3 linked regions of the Homo sapiens genome follow. The protein of the gene in region 3 interacts with the protein of the main gene of each other region in a pairwise test. Each region holds a gene or a part of one and is shown on either strand. Other genes may lie near its edges.

Region 1 (3,650 bases), on a different chromosome or scaffold from region 3:
GTCTCTACTAAAAATACAAAAATTAGCTGGACATGGTGGCAGGTGCCTGTAATCCCAGCTGCCTAGGAGGCTGAGACAGGAGAATCACTTGAACCCAGGAGGTGGAGGTTGTAGTGAGCTGAGATCACGCCACTGCACTTTGTTGCCTGGGCAATAAAGAGTGAAACTCCATCTCAGAAAAAAAAAAAAAAAAAGATAGCTGGGCATGGTGGCATGCACCTGTGGTCCCAGCTACTCAGGAGGCTAAGGAAGGAGAATCACTTGAGCCCAGGATGTCAAGGCTGCAGTGAGCTGTGTTCACGCCGCTGCATTCCAGCTTGGGCAATAGAATGAGACTTTATCTCAAAAAAAAAATCTCTTCAGGGAATTGATAGACAAACATGTGAGCGCACGCACACACACAGCAAATAGCAAAATAGAAATCAGAGTACTGGTTTATTTATCAGTAGTTAAGTAGTTATGGTGTATACCACTTTCATCACCAAGTTAGGACATAACTGATGAAAGCTAAATTGGGTAATGTGGCTTAATCCAGAAAGTTTAAATGATGGCTCTTGTTCCTGCCCTTGTGTCCATGATCTCATATACTTAACCAGTTGCAGAGCAGGCAGTTCATTTCAGCCATCCATTCAGAAGCAGAAGAGGATGGCTGGAACTGCTAAGGCAGGCCCTGCCTTAGTCTAAATCTTGGAAAGAGATAGGAAAAGCAGCAGAGGACACACTGCATGTATGCACTGACCTGTGGCAGTACCATGTTCCTGACTCCAGTGGGAAAAAAAAAAAAGAAAGATACAATATGAATATTACACATTTGTTCAAAGCCATAGAAAGTACCACACCAAGAACAAACCCAAATGTAATCTGTGGACTTTGGACAATTATGATGTGTCAACATAGGTTCATCGATTGTAACACATGTACCACTCTGGTAGGGGATGGTGATAATGAGGGAGGCCATGTATGTGTGGGGGCACAAGGGATATATGGGAAACTTCTGTACCTTCCTTTCAATTTTGCTGTCAACCTAAAGCTGTTAAAATATCTTTTTAAAAAAGTTTAAATTAAAAAAACACGACAGTGAATGCCAGGCTTTTACCCAGCAGATTCACAATAATTCCTATAGGAATCCATTTAAGAAAGGGTTGAGAATGTGAAATGATGGATATGTTAATTTGTTTCACTGTAAGAACCATTTTACTATATACTAATATCATATTTTATACCTTAAATATACACAATAAAATTTATTTTTTTAATAAAGGGGTGAGAAAAGGTTATCAGAAATGCAGAATAAAAGTTCTCTCCTGTAATGACTTGAAGTGAAAGGTAGAAATGTCCACCTCCCAGCCCCTTTTCAACACACAGTTTTGTTTAGTACCCACATGGAACTCTTTATTTCACTGCTGGAGCATATGAAATCTGTTCTTTAGACGTTAGTTTCCATCATTTTGGGGACTTTGGTGTTATTAGTAGTGATTATGGTATATTTACTTTTAGTTACCAAACTTTATGTGCTAGTCATTACCTTTGTGTTGTTGTTATTGTCCAACTTTGACACTTGTCCTGCAGCTAAAATAAAAAATAATCATTTTTGAAAAATATTTTTGAAATATGAAACTGTAGGCCGGGCACGGTGGCTCACGCCTGTAATCCCAGCACTTTGGGAGGCCAAGGTGGGCAGATCACAAGGTCAGGAGATCGAGACCATCCTGGCCAACATGGTGAAACCCCATCTCTACTAAAAATACAAAAATTAGCTGGGCATGGTGGCATGAGTCTGTAATCCTACTCGGGAGGCTGAGGCAGGAGAATCACTTGAACCAGGGAGTCAGAGGTTGCAGTGAGCTGAGATCGCACCACTGCACTCCAGCCTGGTGACACAGCAAGACTGTCTCAAAAAAAAAAAATGAAACTGTATATTCAATATAGAAAATTTAGGAAGTATGAAAGAAGAAAAAATAAAAATTACATCATTTTTCCATGTAGTAACAGCCACCATAATATTTTGATGTGTATTCTGTTTTCTTTTTTAAAAAGTATAGTTTTTAGTTTGTTTTGTTTTGTGAAGTGTGATCTTACTATAGTCACAGTATTATATCCAAATTTTTCACTTAACATTATATTGTAAACATTTTCCAAATGAGTTTCTTGAATATTTTAATCGCTGCATATGTTGCATCATGTATATATTATTGGACAGAAAGGTTGTTTGCAATTTTGCCACTATAGATATTATGTATATTATTATGTATGTTAAGAAGATATTAGCATTTTCTTCTTAAAGCATTTCTTGTATTTTGGAGTTTTTCCTTATAGCCCTAGAAGTAGGATTACTGAAAAATTTAAGGCTCTTGATACATATTAGGAGATTTTTTTTCCCAGTGGGTTATAGCAATTACCATGCTGCTGACAATATGTAAGAAAACTGAATTCACCACACCTCACCATTTTTTTTTTTTTTTTTTTTTTTTGAGACAGAGTCTGGCTCTGTCACCCAGGTTGGAGTGCAGTGGCGTGATTTCGGCTCACTGCAAGGTCCGCCTCCCTGGTTCACGCCATTCTCCTGCCTCAGCCTCCCGACACCTCACCATTTTTTATTCTTGACCTCATTATGACTTCTCTATCCTTAGTATTAGAGTTGGGTATGGTCACTTGGTATGTGTATTCATTTCCTTCAACAGCATTAATTCTGTTTCTGTTTTTTCACATTGCCAAGAGTGGATGCAGGGACAGTGCTGGATGCTGGTTATGGAGTTAACTAGTAGGGGCTTAAGTCTTTTCATATAAAGGAGACAGAGTAGCCCTAATGCTCTTCTTTCAGCTTCAAATCTGAAAACATGATCCAGTTAGTGGATTTTACATAGAGAGTGATGGGGACATTTGGGGAATCATGCCCTAAGAGAAGTGATTGAAAAAACTATGAATTAACTTTATATCCATAATAAAGTTAACATGAAGAAGTAGAATTATTTTATGTTGCTGTAGTAAGCAGAAATAGTATCAAGGGATTGGAGAAAGACAGAGGTTTCACTTAATATTTATAACTATTGGAAATGAAACCAGACTGTTTTCATTAGTGATTTCCCACATATTCATGCATTGGTAACATTTAAGCCATGCATCCTGTGGGCTCTGCCAGCTCCTAAGTTATGTCAGTGTTAATCCCTGCCATGGAATGGGAAGAAAGAATTAGAGTAATTTACCTCAGTTGGTATTTTTTTTAATGTTTAAGGGAATTTGAGAGTACGAAGATTCATTTGAATTGACTGGCTTTGTTAAACTACAGATACTGGAGAATATAGGAAGAAGCTATGAATAATATCCAGGGACATAGTATTTGAATGATAAATTCATTGTTTTTATTCATATGTGGTAATAATGGAAAATTTATTTTAAGATTAGGAGAGGAAAGGAATCTGAAAAGTTTGTGTCATCTCCTTGAAGGACAGAAGGCTTCATGGGGCATTAAAATAAAACAAAAAATACCTTCTCTCCCTAAGATTAATGGTACCTTCCAAAGGAAATTAAGTAGTAGTCATATACCTGTGAGGAAAAGCATATTGAGACTAAAGATAGAATGTACCTGCACAATATAGAGGGGGCAGGGAAGATAGACATGGACATTTTTGAGACTCCAAAAGGGACTTTAT
Region 2 (3,650 bases), on a different chromosome or scaffold from region 3:
TTTTCCTTTTTCCTTCTGCCTCCTCAGTCCCCAAAGAGGATACACAGCTGCAAGGAGCAAACACAGACACACTGAAGCTTTTGATTCCTCTCCTTTTTTTTCCTTCAAGACCCTCCAGGATGGATTCACTTTCTGCTTTGGGAAATTAAGTGGCATTCACGTGGGGGAGGGGGAGTAACTGCTTTTATTAGCTCCAGAAAATGGTCAGTGTTCAGTCTGTAACTAGGAATTAATTATATATAATCACTCAGTAAACTTTCTACAGAGTTTTTCTAATTGCTGAGCCTGATCATAGTTAGCCCGTTGGCGCCAAGTCCAGTTACTTTTATAATTAACAGCTCAAAGATTTGAGTCAGAAAGAAACAATTGGGGGCCTCTTGGATTATAAATTAGGGATGAAAACAATAGCTTTTTTTCCTTTCTTTCTTGTCATCCCTTTTATTTTCAACAAAACATTTCCCCTTTTCTTTCCCTGGGAGAACCAGTGGGGAGACTGCATCAGGTCTTAAATAGGATGAGGGGGGAGACACTTTTTAGGAAGTGGGGTGACAGTAACCTAGAAAACCCTGGAGGCAAAGGTAGGTTTTTAAAAGTCCAGCCACTTGCAACGCGTGATGTCTTTGTTTCTTTTGCCCTCTTTCCCCTTCTCTCTCCTGTGGCAGAGGCAGCAGACATTTGTCAGCCTGGGAACCCTCAATCTGGCTTTGCCTCTGGTTGACTCTGGAAAGAAAGATACATTCAAAGGGGCCTTCGCTACTGCACAGCAGAGATTTAAAAAGGGAATATGTTTCAGAACCCTTTGGTTACTCTTAAAATGCAAGATCTGAGCAAGGGTTCACCCTTGGCTTCAGGTTGCTAAGGTTATGGTCACCCTCCCCGCTACTTCCCACTCTCCTTGCAGACAAACAAACAGGCAGTGGCCATGCCAGCTCTGCAGCCAGTGTGCTGCCAGCCTGTCCCCCCCATCCCGATTACCTTACCTACCGGCCGGCGGGGGCCAGTGGCCCGTCCTTGCCCTGGCATGGCCTTGGGCACTGTGCCCTCCTTTCTCCCCTGGAGCTAAAAAGCAGTCACCTTGAAACTCCTCACTCCCAGCACCAGAGGAGTTCTGAGGCCAATGCTCAGACCTGTAACAGTAAATGACGTTATCCACTCAGGCTGTTAGTTCGGCCTCTGAAAGCGGGTTTTGCAAAACCCATTGTTAATTCTCAGGCTCTGTTGGGGGTGGTCAGAAATCTAATTTGTGAGTATCCTGTGCATTGGATAAGGGAATGTTTTCCTTGTGTTTCTCCTCTGCAGACTCGGATTGTCTTTCCTTGATGTTAACTGTCTTAGGACTGGCTGCTTCAGAGGGCTGGGTATTTGGTGGCTGTTTGCAGGCTTATAAACAGCCTTTTTATTTTACCTTTGCCGTAGACTGAGGTGCAGCCCTTTAGCTTGGCTTTTCAGATGCCTGCTGTCCTTGAAGCACTTTCATTTTACCTAGCGCCTTTTTGGTATGGATGCAAAGCTGGTTTCTAATAGACTGAGAAGAGAAGGGGGACCGGGCTTCCTCCTTGCCTTCCCCCAGGCTGCTCCCTGGGAACATTTTTGTGTTTGCACAGACACCTGTCCGTCTGCAGTTTGTGCCACGGGGCTGCACGATTCCTAACCTTCTACCCACCTAATTTGAGGGCAAGGGGGCCTCATCACAGAGCCTCATGTTGAAGGCTCAGGATCTACAAGAGAAGGCTTTTCCTTAGGAACCTGTGACTTCACAAACTCTCCCTGTCATTGCAGAGTTTTTTTTAAGCTTCTAAACGTTGGGTTGTTGGTGTCCTTTGGTTCAGCTTTTCCTAGTTCTGGTATTTAGGAAGGTGGCTTTGAAACTCGCAGGGCTGCTTAAACAAGAGCTACAGCTATTGAACAAACTGCTACCATTTTAGCTTCAACACAGGAATGAGGCAGTGTTGCCAGACGCCATTTTAAGAATCCTGCATAAATAGCTTAGCTACCGATGACTCTGCCTGTTTTAGGTGAGTGCTTATATAAAGCTGCTCTGCTAACCATTCCCCCCCACCCCAATTTCTTAAAAAATTAATTGTAGATTTAGGGAAGCATGGTTTTTAATTTTGATGTTCACTATTTTGTAATCTAGAAGAGGAAGATGTTATGCCTTGGGGATTAAATATTTCTTACAGCCTGGACCATTTTGGTATTTTGAATGAAAAGTAAAAACCAGGAAAAGTCCTTTCGAATGATGCATGATTCTTGAATTGCTGTGCGATGATCCTCATCTGTAGAACCAGAGTCTTGTGCATGTTGGTTATATATTCTAGATGGCTTAGATACTCTTCTTTAAAAGTCAAATAGTAGGGGCACTTGGGGAAAAGAAATATGTGGGCATTGTGTATTCAGGCATTTTTCTGTCAAAACTAGATGCTTTCTTTTTTCTCTCTCTTGGAAGTGTTGAGGAGATGAGATTCCTGGGAATTACGGACCATCCCTGAGTCCTCAGAATTAACAATCAGAAGGCTTAAAGCATCCTGGAGGTGCAGTAGTTCATCTGCAACTTTTAATTGCTCTTTTTTCAGTGCATGCAGGTTAAGAAGTAAGCATAGGTTTTCTTGCTCAGGCACTGGGGGAGAAATCTTTTATTCTTTTTGGGATGGGATGGGGTGGTCTTGGTTATCTTTGCAGGTACTGTTATTTCTTTGAATTGCCTCAAATGTATCAGTTTGTGAAATCTGCAGGCAAATGACTTGGGTAAATGTGAGTGTAAGAGGTGGTGGTGTATACAATGTATCTAACTAGTTGATGGTGTATTTTCCTATTGGAGTGAGAAATTGTTTGCTTTTCAGCTAATTTTACCCTTTTCTGTAGCGGGCCCCCAGTTTCCTCAACAGACCTTTAAAGGGAAAAAAGTAATGTCAGTTTGAAACAAGAGCTTGTTGTCCCATTGTTTTTGATTTAAATCATCAGGGTTGCTGGAAGCTAGCAGATATGGAAGGAAATAAGCTGTCTATGTTCTAAGACTTTAATGTGTTAATGACAGAAGTTCAGAGTATTTTCTCCAGATGCAGCTGCCTTTTCTTTTTAAGAATTATTTGACTGTTTTTTTTCCCCCAAATGACTGAACAGTTCTTAACCTAAATTGACCAACATCAGTGGGGCAATTCAGACAGGTACAGATCTTTTCTTGCGCCTACTTTTGATGTAATATTCATTTTTTTTTCCTAATAACATACTAGTTCTTAACACTAAATCAAAAAAAAACACACACACACACACAAAAAAACCGAAATCAGTGGTGTAGGAAAAAGGAAGTCCCTTTAGATGTGGCTATTCAAAATGACTAATTTTGCATTCTGGTCTTTGCTTTTGTAAATGAAGTTTTTTTTTTTTTTTTTTTTTTTTCTCCTTTTAATGCATAGACACTGCAGTTTCCTTTAGTCAAATACAAGTTAATTGTGTGTGTGAGTGTGCGTGCATGTGTGTGCACGGGTTCCTTTTGAAAGGATGGTTTGCTGATCTGTGAAAAAGATGGTTTTCTTAAATTGTTGTGCTTGAAATGCTGTGCTAAAGCTGGTGGTGCTATTGCTAAAGTTGGGTGATTATGGTGCCCACTTGTAATACTTGGAAAGATAAAACAGCTTAACTTTTTTTTCCCT
Region 3 (3,650 bases):
AGAGCCGCCTGGGCAGCCCCAACAGGGCACTGAGGACACCAGGCACCATCCACACCCACACTCCAGCAGCCAGGTGCTCTCTCTCCACCCCCTGGGCAGAGCGAATCAGATGGTTCTCTGGCTCTGCCTTTCCCACGTGCTGCCGTGGCTCTCACAGTTGTTTTCGGAAACACAGACTCCACTGGGAGGATTTCTCCCTCATAAACACACATGTCAAAATCAATGTATCACTCGTCACCCTGTGTCCTCATCTTCGGCTTGGAAAACCTGGCCTCAGTCCCTCGGGCCAAGAGTCTCCTGACTGCCCAGGTGGCAGGCCCTCCGTCCCTTGCGGTTCTAAACTGCTACCTGGGAAAGAATCGTTGCTGCCCACAACTTCCATCTTGGCTACGCCTCAAAACCCTTCAACAGGAAGCTTCCCAGCAGCAGCACAGTAACAAAGCAACCATGGGACAGAGCCTAGGGTCTCGCCCAGCTCAGGGGCATCCTGCAGCGGTGCAGGGCCTCAGTGAAATGCAGAGAGGCTAGGAGTACATGGAACCTCTAAAACTGAATGGAGGTGGATGTGCTAAGCGTGGGCGGTTTTCTGGGGAGCGGGTGCATCAGATCTAAGAGTCTGAGATCTAAGAGGCATAAAAAGCCTCCAGGTGTGGGGAGCAGCCCCCATGTTTGCGGACCAGCCACAGGGTGCTGCCTGCCAGCTCAGCATGGTTCCACTCACCCTAGTCCTCTCCTTGAAAGCAGCTCCTGATAAAACTCACCCTATGCCCCTCTCCCTGCCCCACTCGCATCCCCCAAACCTACTCCTCCTGCCACAATAATCCCCTCCAATTTCTCACTGAGAGAAAGGGTAACAATTTCACTCCACCCGATGCTGAAAAGTTCACAAACCCACAATTCTAAAGGAATTTTAAAAAGATTATTGAGGAATTTGCCAAGAGATGTTGAAAGTGGCAGTAACTTCACAACTGTACCCACTGTCCTGCAGTTCAACTAGAGAAAGGGGAGGCAGCAAGGCGTGCCCTACACCAAGGTCAGGAGAAACCCCAAGCCACACCATCGAGGCGGGATTTTGTAATCTGCTGCCTGGACTGCATCAAATCACATGGTCCATCTTCCACACCACCTAAGGCAAACATTTCCTACACGAAGTTATACTGCTGACATCACTTTCAAAACCAAGAGCAGGCCGGGCGCAGTGGCTCACGCCTCTAATCCTAGAGCTTTGGGAAGCCAAGGTGGGCAGATCACCTGAGGTCAGGAGTTCAAGACCAGCCTGGCCAACATGGCAAAACCCCATCTCTACTAAAAATATAAAAATTAGTCAGGCGTGGTGGCTCATTCCTATAATCCCAGCTACTCAGGAGGCTGAGGCAGGAGAATCGCTTGAACCCAGGAGGTGGAGGTTGCAGTGAGCCAAGACCGTGCCACTGCACTCCAGCCTGGGTGACAAAGAGACACTCCGCTCCACCAAAAAAAAAAAAAAAAAAAAGTGAACGCACAGGTAAAGGGGCACTGCCAAGAGCCAAACACTGCTCTTTGCTCACATGCTGCAGGCTGCCCATCCCTCATCCCAAATGCTCGGGACGAAAAGTGCTTTGCACTTCAGATTTGTTCAGGTTTTGGAATATTTGCAAATACTTACTGGCTCAGCATCCCTAACCTAAAAATCCAAAATCCGAAACATTCCAGTGAGCATTTCCTTTGAGCATCTTCCCTATGCTCACAAAATTTCGGATTTTGGAGGATTGTGAATTTCAGATTAGGGGTACTTAAACTAGATGCACTGCCCACTCTTGGACTTGTGCTTTTTTTTTTCTTTGTAGATACGAGATCTCACTATGTTGAGGCCAGACTGGCCTCGAACTGCTGGCCTCAAGGGATCCTCTCACCTTGGCCCCTCAAAATGCTGGGATTACAGGCATGAGCCACCATGCCAGCCTCCCAGAGTTTTACCAGGTGCTTCCATAAAGAGAATCACACCAGCACACAACCTTCAAAAGACGAGTCAACACAGCAAGACATCTCCCTCTTGGCAAAGCACCTACAACCAAGGATGAAGAGGCCCCCCACCCGCCCAGCCTGCAGCGGTATCTGCATCCACCACGAGTCCCAACTCATGGAGCTCTCAACCTCAAATGACCTCCTCCAAGAAGCCAACTGCCACAGGCAACCACATTGAGTGGAGAGAATTCTAGATTCCTCCCTCCTCTGGGCCATGCACGATGCCAGGAGCAGAGGCCCCGTCCCTCTGGAGGAGTCAGAACCCCTGGAGGAGCCCTGGGCCTCCGCGCTTCCATCAGGGTGAAGAAGCTCCACTGTTAGGAACCAGGACACAGCGGGCAGGCAGACTGGACATCCCCTCTCTCCCAAGTTCAAAGTGAGACACTACCTCTGGACAGCAAGCTCACATTGAAGTAAGGTGACATTCCACCCACGTCTCCATCTTTCTGGCAACCTCAGAACTTCACAGCCGCAGCACTGTCCAGACTTGAAAGAGTCAGCGTCTTCAAGACACGAGTGAGCTCCCTGCCCGCTCACCCCCACCACCAGCCAGGCCTACGGCACACACGGCCAGACCCAGCCTCCCCTACCCTCTGCAGGCAGTGGCTACTCCTCAAATGGTGTCTGGTACCAGACATCAAAAGCCTTGGCACAGGGTACACCCTCTGCATAGTGAAGAATTAACCTTGCCTTTGGCCTCATCTCCAAGAGTAGGGGCCTTGGGCCCCACAGGCAGCCTAAGTACGTGATTTAGGGCAGGGGCCTGGGGCCACAAGGTGTCCACTCCACCTCTGGAGGGGCTGGGAACTAAAAGTCAGCCACCCCCACAGCATGTGATCAACCCCAAGGAAACCGCTGGACACCAAGGCTTGGGAAGCTTCGCCGTGTCTGTTGTCACACATTGGTGCCAGTAAACCCACACTGTCCACACCTCTGCTGTCCCAGTTGCTCTGGCTCAAACTTCCCGAAGTTTAAAGGCAGGAAGAGGTACAAGGAAACACTAGCATTTGAGCAGTGGAACAGTGCAAACAATGTAACAACTCAGCTACAGGGAATGACACAGTGTTGTCAACACTGCCCTGGCGGGGGGGAACAGGCTATAGGCTAGCACATGCCACCACTACAGTGTAACACATGCAAATCCTGTAATCCATCTGCAGAGAGGAGGAGGAGGGCCTGGCCCCAGTGCTCATCCCATACTCTGGCTCTGGGTGGTGAAATTCAGGGTGGTTTTTGTTCTTGCTCTCATTTTGTACTTCTCAGTGGTTTCCAATTTTCTGTACGGACCAAAACCAAAGGATAAAAAAGGCAAAAGGTAGCATGAGAGGACACCGAACTGTACTCCAGGGGAAGCAGACAAGTGAGAATTCACTCCCAACTTCTACAACCCCACTCACCATAGCTGAACGGGAACCCACACACTCCACTGTTGTCTAAGTAACTGGATCACGTCTGAGATCCGTGTACACATCGGCACGTGGATCTCAGCTCTGCACTTGTTCTTGACCCCAGGGCTTTGAAGTTTTGTCAGCTAAGGCAAGGGTATTGGAAAATGCTAATCCAGTCTCAGTGGTTACCGGTGCAGCTCACCTTACACACCTGTGCCACAGAAAGGCCGTGTGAGAAAGGCCATGTTGAGAGCCACA

Evidence for each region.
Region 1: the proteins of WDR4 (region 3) and REV3L interact in a two-hybrid assay, tested with the Homo sapiens proteins (one large-scale study listed by BioGRID and IntAct).
Region 2: the proteins of WDR4 (region 3) and ZMYND8 interact in a two-hybrid assay, tested with the Homo sapiens proteins (one large-scale study listed by BioGRID and IntAct).

The regions. Positions count from the first base shown.
Region 1 is NC_000006.12:111,368,103-111,371,752, reverse strand, and holds part of REV3L (DNA polymerase zeta catalytic subunit), read left to right. Parts: intron 1-3,650. UniProt on the Homo sapiens protein: Catalytic subunit of the DNA polymerase zeta complex, an error-prone polymerase specialized in translesion DNA synthesis (TLS). Lacks an intrinsic 3'-5' exonuclease activity and thus has no proofreading function.
Region 2 is NC_000020.11:47,350,075-47,353,724, reverse strand, and holds part of ZMYND8 (MYND-type zinc finger-containing chromatin reader ZMYND8), read left to right. Parts: exon of another isoform or gene 1-720; intron 721-984; exon of another isoform or gene 985-1,164; intron 1,165-1,975; exon of another isoform or gene 1,976-2,015; intron 2,016-2,446; exon of another isoform or gene 2,447-2,531; intron 2,532-3,650. UniProt on the Homo sapiens protein: Chromatin reader that recognizes dual histone modifications such as histone H3.1 dimethylated at 'Lys-36' and histone H4 acetylated at 'Lys-16' (H3.1K36me2-H4K16ac) and histone H3 methylated at 'Lys-4' and histone H4 acetylated at 'Lys-14' (H3K4me1-H3K14ac).
Region 3 is NC_000021.9:42,865,922-42,869,571, forward strand, and holds part of WDR4 (tRNA (guanine-N(7)-)-methyltransferase non-catalytic subunit WDR4), read right to left. Parts: intron 1-3,650. UniProt on the Homo sapiens protein: Non-catalytic component of the METTL1-WDR4 methyltransferase complex required for the formation of N(7)-methylguanine in a subset of RNA species, such as tRNAs, mRNAs and microRNAs (miRNAs).